Homo sapiens: one gene and its partner. The protein of the gene in region 1 purifies or fractionates together with the protein of each later gene. This does not show direct contact. Each region holds a gene or a part of one and is shown on either strand. Other genes may lie near its edges. The genes, in order: SLC38A4 and TUBGCP4.

Region 1 (3,069 bases):
CACACACACATATATACACTTTTTGTTGCAACATCTATTAAGCTTTTGGTTTTGTTTGCTTTATAAAATTAGAATCATATCATATATGCTATTCTTTTTTAACCTGCTCTTTTTCACCTAAAAGATTGTAAGCATTCTCTAGATTATTGAATCTTTTTCTGTCCCTTGATTTTTAATAATCACAGGGTATTCCATCATCTTGGTGTACTAAATCAATTAACTATTACTCCATTGTTGAACCTGTAGGTTGTATCTCTCCACTGTATTCCTCTTCTTTCTTCAACTAGGATTCTAAATTGACTGATAGGTTAGGCCTGGGCATCTGAGATATTAAGAATAATATGGCTCAATATATAGATCAGATTGCCATATTATGTAAACAACTAAAAAACAAATTGTACTAAGTATGGTTTCTGTGCTCCTAACAGAGTCTCTCTGAATTACAGGCTTTAATTTTCCTTGTGGTTGGAATATTCTTCATGATTGGAAGCATGGCACTCATTATAATTGACTGGATTTATGATCCTCCAAATTCCAAGCATCACTAACACAAGGAAAAATACTTTCTTTTTCTATTGGAAATGGTTACAAGTTATACTCCAAAAGATATTTGAATTATCTTGATTGGAATGTTATTCATAGGAAATAACAGGAAGATTCCAAAGACGTTTACCAGTAATATCACCAGGCACCTGCAGAAGAGGAAAATCACTGTTTTTGTCAAGGATGGTTGTGTATGTGTTTAAAATAAAACCTGTGGTGCACATTTCTACCCAGGTTTTGCTAGAGCAGTGTGAGATGATGAAGGTGTATTTTTGCTGCTTTACGAGCAGAATAAGGGTAACTGCATGTAACAATCATCAGATAGTACTCTTTCCCCTGCCGTCTCCTCATCCTGCACCCCCTAAAAAAGTACCAAACATTTGCATTCTCAGAACATCAAACAAAAATGCCCTGGTGGCAAAGCTATCACCATTTAATGTCTTCTCTCAGTCTTGCACCAAAGTCTCTGGTCTGTTTACTAACAGAGGCAAAAGGCATGTCTTAGGAACTGTTTCTGTTTCTGTAAGGTACATGAATGGTCAAACACCAGTCTAGAGCATCTTATTGTCAACAGCAAAATAATATTTTGCCCACCCTGTTTGTGACATTGAGTTGTGACTTCTATATTCAATAGATTTTTGTAAATGTTAAAACATCTATATTTAAATGTTAAAACACTAAATATAGAGAGGGGCTTTATTTCAATCATAGAGCAACAACAAAAATAATGCTTATAGCTAAACTGCCTGTTCTAGAAAGCATCTGCTTTTTCATGTTATTCCTAAATCCTCTTGTCATACTTTTGTCATTGAACAATGCTCTCCCTCTCGTCTTCCATCCTCATTCAGAATTTTTAGAAGACCACAATCGTGGAGATACACTACCCAGTATTGTTTGATACATTTTTATTTGATAAACATTCAGTGCAGGAAACTGTGATTTGCTATATGTTTATGTATATAATCTTATTCTGTAGTCATCAGAATGTTAATGTAAGGTACATTTGATTTTTATTTTTTACATGTGTAGTTTTCTTTCTTCACAGTCAAAGCATTTATATTATTGGGGGTGGGGGCAGGGAATTAAGTTGGTGGGCTCGAAAATCCATTCATATGTATCTGTCTACAAATGTCTGGGGATAATTTAAATTTGAAACCTAAGTTATATATAGTTTGGCAATGCTCTTCTTCAATATTTACAATAATAGGATGATCTACAAGAAAATAAGTTTCTTTTTGCAAATTTTTATCATACTAAAGTTGTTCTTTTAATTTAGCATATCTAAAATAGGATTTAGTTCAGTTTAGCTCACACAGGTGTTTGCTGACATTCATTGGCCATTTAATACAGTGTTGAGTGGTTCTCTGTAAAAGTATAAGTGCTAACACTACGAAGAAATGCACACGATCATTCTTGCTCACTTCTATAACAAACTTACATAAAATGGATTTAAAAATTCCTACTCACAGCCTAAAACTTCTGGAGTTCACTACCTTTTTTTCAAATCATAGTAAGATCACTTGTGTATTTTATATTTTAGTAAAGCCAATTATGAAGTACAAGTATCATACACGTACTTTTGAGCTACTATTATTTGAAAAAAATCTGCCAAATAGCATCTTTAGGATATATTTACATTTTCACTCATCTAAAAAGTATACAAAAATAAAAAGTGGAAAAAGGTATCTTCTGAATGTTCAAGAGCATCCTATAGTGCCAAATAATAAAGCACCATTTTTTTCTTCATAACCAGGATTAAAATTCATATATACTGCAGGGCAGACATACATATGATAGCTTGTGCTGATTAATTTAACCCCATTTGTAAACAGATGAAAATTTTATTTTCTTATTTCATTTATAAGATGGCTCAATGTATTGGGAGGCTTCTTTTTTATTACAGAAAGTGTATATTGGTATATAATAAATGAACTTTTCAAATGACTATGATGTGATTTTTGATCTATTGTTAAAGAATGTTGTGTTATTTGTCCATGAAACAAAATTTAAAATCCAAATACTGTCTTTCTTATATTGGTTTATGTTCCATTTTCATTGTTACCTTTGACACATAACTAACATCTATAGCCATCATCCTGAAAATAATTGCCATCTTATTTTGGCAAAATAGATATTTAATCCTAAATTATTATGATGATTATAATTTTGGCATCACATATATACCACCTAGAATGAATGTGGAAGAAATGAGTCTTTTATGGTTAGTTTGAAAGAATCCATTGAAGATAGAAAATGAGAGAATAGAAGAAACCTGAGAATAGTAAAATAAAGAGCAGAGAAAATATGGGGGCAGGGAAAACATGTGAGTGCTAAGGATTGATTATGAATGAACGATTAGGGGGATTGACGGATCACAGGGTAAGTATATGCTTAACTTTATAAGAAACTTCCACATAGTTTTCCACAGTGTTTCTACCATTTTCATTTCCACCCGTACTACCTACAACTTCCACTGACTCCACAGCCCTGCCAACATTTGGTGTTGTCTTTTGCATTTTAGCCTTT
Region 2 (3,832 bases), on another chromosome or scaffold:
GGGTGGAGGTTGCAGTGAGCTGGGATCCTACCACTATACTCCAGCCTGGGTGACAGAGTGAGACCCTGTCTCAAAAAAAAAAAAAAAAAGAAAAAAGAAAAAAAAGAAACTGCCTCTCTCTGCCATCCTCTTCCTATCTGCAGCGAACCTCCACATCAAATTGCCTTAGGATGCTGGATCTTGACTGTTCTGTGGTATTGCCATTTTATCTTAAGTTGAACTATTTAGAAACAAAAGCATTTCCCAAGTTGATTTTTTTTCCCTTACATTTGATTACATACCCTTCTAATTATTCTCTACTTTGCAGTTCCAGCTTCTTTTTCCCTCTGTGATGGTTGTAGTAGAACAAATTAAAAGTCAAAAGGTGAGAACTTTCCTTATTCCTTTTGCTTTGCTAAGCACTGAGGGAATATTACTAATTAATTTTGCTTTACATTATTTTTCGAAGACCCTAGTTTTTAGTAGTTTTTATTTATTCATTCATTTAACAATATCTGCTTGGTTATCATGTTAAGTGTCAGGAATGCAAAAGTATGACTCTGCCTTTAAACACCTCCTGGTCCAGAAGGTAGAGGAAATGTTCATAGATGTTCCCAAGAATGTTGTTGGGGTAAGAAAAAAAGTGCTGTGGATGTTTGCAGGTGAGAGGAACCTGCAGTAAGGTTTTAGAACTGTTGGGTGTGAAGCAGAAAGTTAATTCTTAGGAAGAAGGTAATAGGTTTATGGTTAGTGTGCTGGCAGTTTTCTGAGAATTTTGAGATCAGTGAGTGAAAGCCAGATGTTTAATAAATATGCCTATTCTTATCACAAGTTTTTATCAGGTGTATTGAGAAGTTAGGAGAATGTCTTTCTGGGCAGAGTTAATAAGTCTGAGGAATAAATGCTTTGAGATTTCATATTAGAAGAATCTGCTGTCCTATTGAATTGGTCCACAATTGGACCAAGTGGACAAATGGATTAAACATCTTTAGCTCAAGTCGTCATTTTTTTTAAGCTCTTTATTTGTGCCTTAGCTTATTAGGGGTGTTCATTTTCATTAATGTAACTAGTAAACCAGTTAATCTGCCACATTGCTGCATCATTTTTAACTGTGTAAGTGTAGAAACAGTGCTCTGCTATGTTCATGCTGTGCCAGCAAAGCCAGTGGTGGGTGCTCATTGGCCCTTCAAAGCTGATTGTCCTCATCAAATAACAACATCCAGCTTTTACTGTCACTGGCTGTGTACTAGGCACTGTGCTAAGTGCTTTAAATACATTATCACACACAATCCACTAAAGGGCTAAGTTGGTTAAGGGGTGTGCCCAGTGTCACACAGATAGTAGTAAATGGGTTTATATCCCAGCTCTATCTGGCTCCAAAGAGTGTGCTCTTAACCACTAGATTAAACTATCTCCCAAAATAAAAGGAGACATTCTAGGCAAATAGAGTTAATGAGGACAGCATAAGGGAGCCAGGCCTAGCTGCACGTCTCAGTTGGCCTTCAACTTCCGCTGGCTATAGGAAGGAGAGTGGAAAATAGGGGGATTGCAGATGGCTGAATCTTCCTCCCTGCCAGAATAGTGGTAGAGAAACTAGTGTACCAAGGCTCTTCAGAGTTTTTAAAATCAGGTGGTCAAAATTCTAGGTTTGGGTTGAGAATGGAGATTGATTGCAGACAGGCACAAAGGCGCTTTTTGGAGTAGTGGAAATGTTATAAAACTGGATTGTGGTAATGGTTGCCCAGTGTTTGAAATTTACTAAAAATTGTTTATTAGTATGCTTAAAATGGGTGAATTTCATTGTAAATTATACCTCAAAGTGGTAAAAATAAAAGTCTGGGGACCGGGCATGGTGGCTCACGCCTGTAATCCCAGCACTTCGGGAGGCCGAGGCGGGCGGACCACGAGGTCAGGAGATTGAGTCCATCCTGGCTAACACAGTGAAACCCTGTCTCTACTAAAAATACAAAAAAAATTAGCCAGGCGTGGTGGCGGGTGCCTGTGTCGCACTACTCGGGAGGCTGAGGCAGGAGAATGGTGTGAACCCAGGAGGCAGAGCTTGTAGTGAGCCAAGATTGCACCACTGCACTCCAGCGTGGGCGACAGAGCAAGACTCCGTCTCAAAAAAAAAAAAAAAAAAAAAAGTCTGAAGAACATAGAGGCAGAGGATTTTTGAAAAAGTATATACCTTAGAAGTAGACTGAATTGGGCCTTAACTTGAAATAAAAAGCTTTCCTTGGCTTTGGTGTTCCAACTCTAAATGATTCTGGTTGCTTTAAGTGCAGTGGTTCTCACACTTTACTGTGCATTAGAATCACCTGGAGGGCTTGTGGAAACACTGAGTGCTGGGTTCTAACCAAGAGTTTGCATGTCTGATGAGTCTCCAGGTCATGCTGCTGATGGGAGAGAGGTCCCTCTTTGAGAACCACTATGTGTAAATCTTAGGAGAAAGTTTATCCCCAGTCTCTCCTAGATTGTGCCCTCTTGGTTGAATATGGAATAAGAATGTGTCTTGCATGGACTCTTAGAATGGAATCCAGTTTGACAAGGCCGTATTTTCCACAGATTCATGGTTGTCAAATCCTGGAAACAGTCTACAAACACAGCTGTGGGGGGTTGCCTCCTGTTCGAAGTGCACTGGAAAAGTAAGTCATGGCTTAACTGGGAATTGGTGGTGGAGGTGGGTGGTCAAATTATTTGACTTCTCACATGTTTTATTTTCAGGTCATTTCAGGTTTCCCTCTTGGGAAGGTTATAACCAGGATAGAAAAAGCTCCATGAGCAGAGGAGCCCATGTAACCTTTATTATGGCTCAGGCCTTGCAAAAAGGGCTATAGAGTGTTGAGTGACAAAGCCAGGATTTAGGTGCCTGGATGACCTTGAGGCAATCTTTTTAAATGTTTAGATCCTGTTATCCTTGCAGGAATTCCATTACATGTGCCAGATGTTGCTTGCTGTGTCTAAACATGTGTATTTGAGTAGCTGGTATTTTCAAATTGAAGGTCCTTAAAAATGTTTATGCTTTATAATCCCATAATGCCACTCTTGGGAATTTTATCCTAACAAAACTATTTAATAGAAGAAAATAACTATATGCACAAACGTGTTCATTGCAATGTTGTCTACTATATCAGGAAATTAGAAAATTACCAACAGTAGAAAAAAATTTAAATGATGATATATTCACTTGATAGACTATAAAGCCACTAAAAGTGTAGGTACTATAACATGTAAACTATTTTATATAAATATGTACTGACAAATGATACAAAATTGTATTTATCTTGTGATTACAACAATATGAAAACATGTAGAGTATAATCAAAGACTGCCTGTTTGAGCTTTCCATTTATCCATTTTCCTTATTTTAAAAAAACTGTGACATTCATTGAAAAATTATAATAGATGATCCCTGAGGCCACTCACAACTCTGTTTTGTTCTTTTTTTCTTATTTTATTTTAATTTTTTGTAGAGAGAAGGCTTTGCTATGTTGCCCAGGCTGGTCTCGAACTCCTAGGCTCAACCGATATTCACATCTTGGCCTCCCAAAGTGTTGAGATTACAGGTGTGAGCCACCGCACCCGGCCACTCACAACTCTTAATCTCCACTCTAACCACTGCATGAGTAAATCCTCCAGAACATTCCTTAGGGACTTAATTCTCTATTATACTTTTGTGTATAGAATATAAAATCTAATGTAGATGATACTATATATACATGTTTGTTCTGTGTTTGCAGGGACCAAACTTTACAGACCACATACTCAGAAATGCATAAATGTAAATAGCTTCACATTTGATCTTTTTAAAGAGAGATTCCATTCAGTTAAATAACACAGTCAAGTTCTTGTA

What was found.
Region 2: the proteins of SLC38A4 (region 1) and TUBGCP4 purify together in Homo sapiens (affinity purification with mass spectrometry; one large-scale study listed by BioGRID and IntAct). This does not show direct contact.

The regions. Positions count from the first base shown.
Region 1 is NC_000012.12:46,764,180-46,767,248, reverse strand, and holds the end of SLC38A4 (sodium-coupled neutral amino acid transporter 4), read left to right. Parts: intron 1-446; coding exon 447-548; 3' UTR 549-2,488; downstream 2,489-3,069. UniProt on the Homo sapiens protein: Symporter that cotransports neutral amino acids and sodium ions from the extraccellular to the intracellular side of the cell membrane. The transport is electrogenic, pH dependent and partially tolerates substitution of Na(+) by Li(+).
Region 2 is NC_000015.10:43,377,540-43,381,371, forward strand, and holds part of TUBGCP4 (gamma-tubulin complex component 4), read left to right. Parts: intron 1-307; coding exon 308-364; intron 365-2,544; coding exon 2,545-2,624; intron 2,625-3,832. UniProt on the Homo sapiens protein: Component of the gamma-tubulin ring complex (gTuRC) which mediates microtubule nucleation.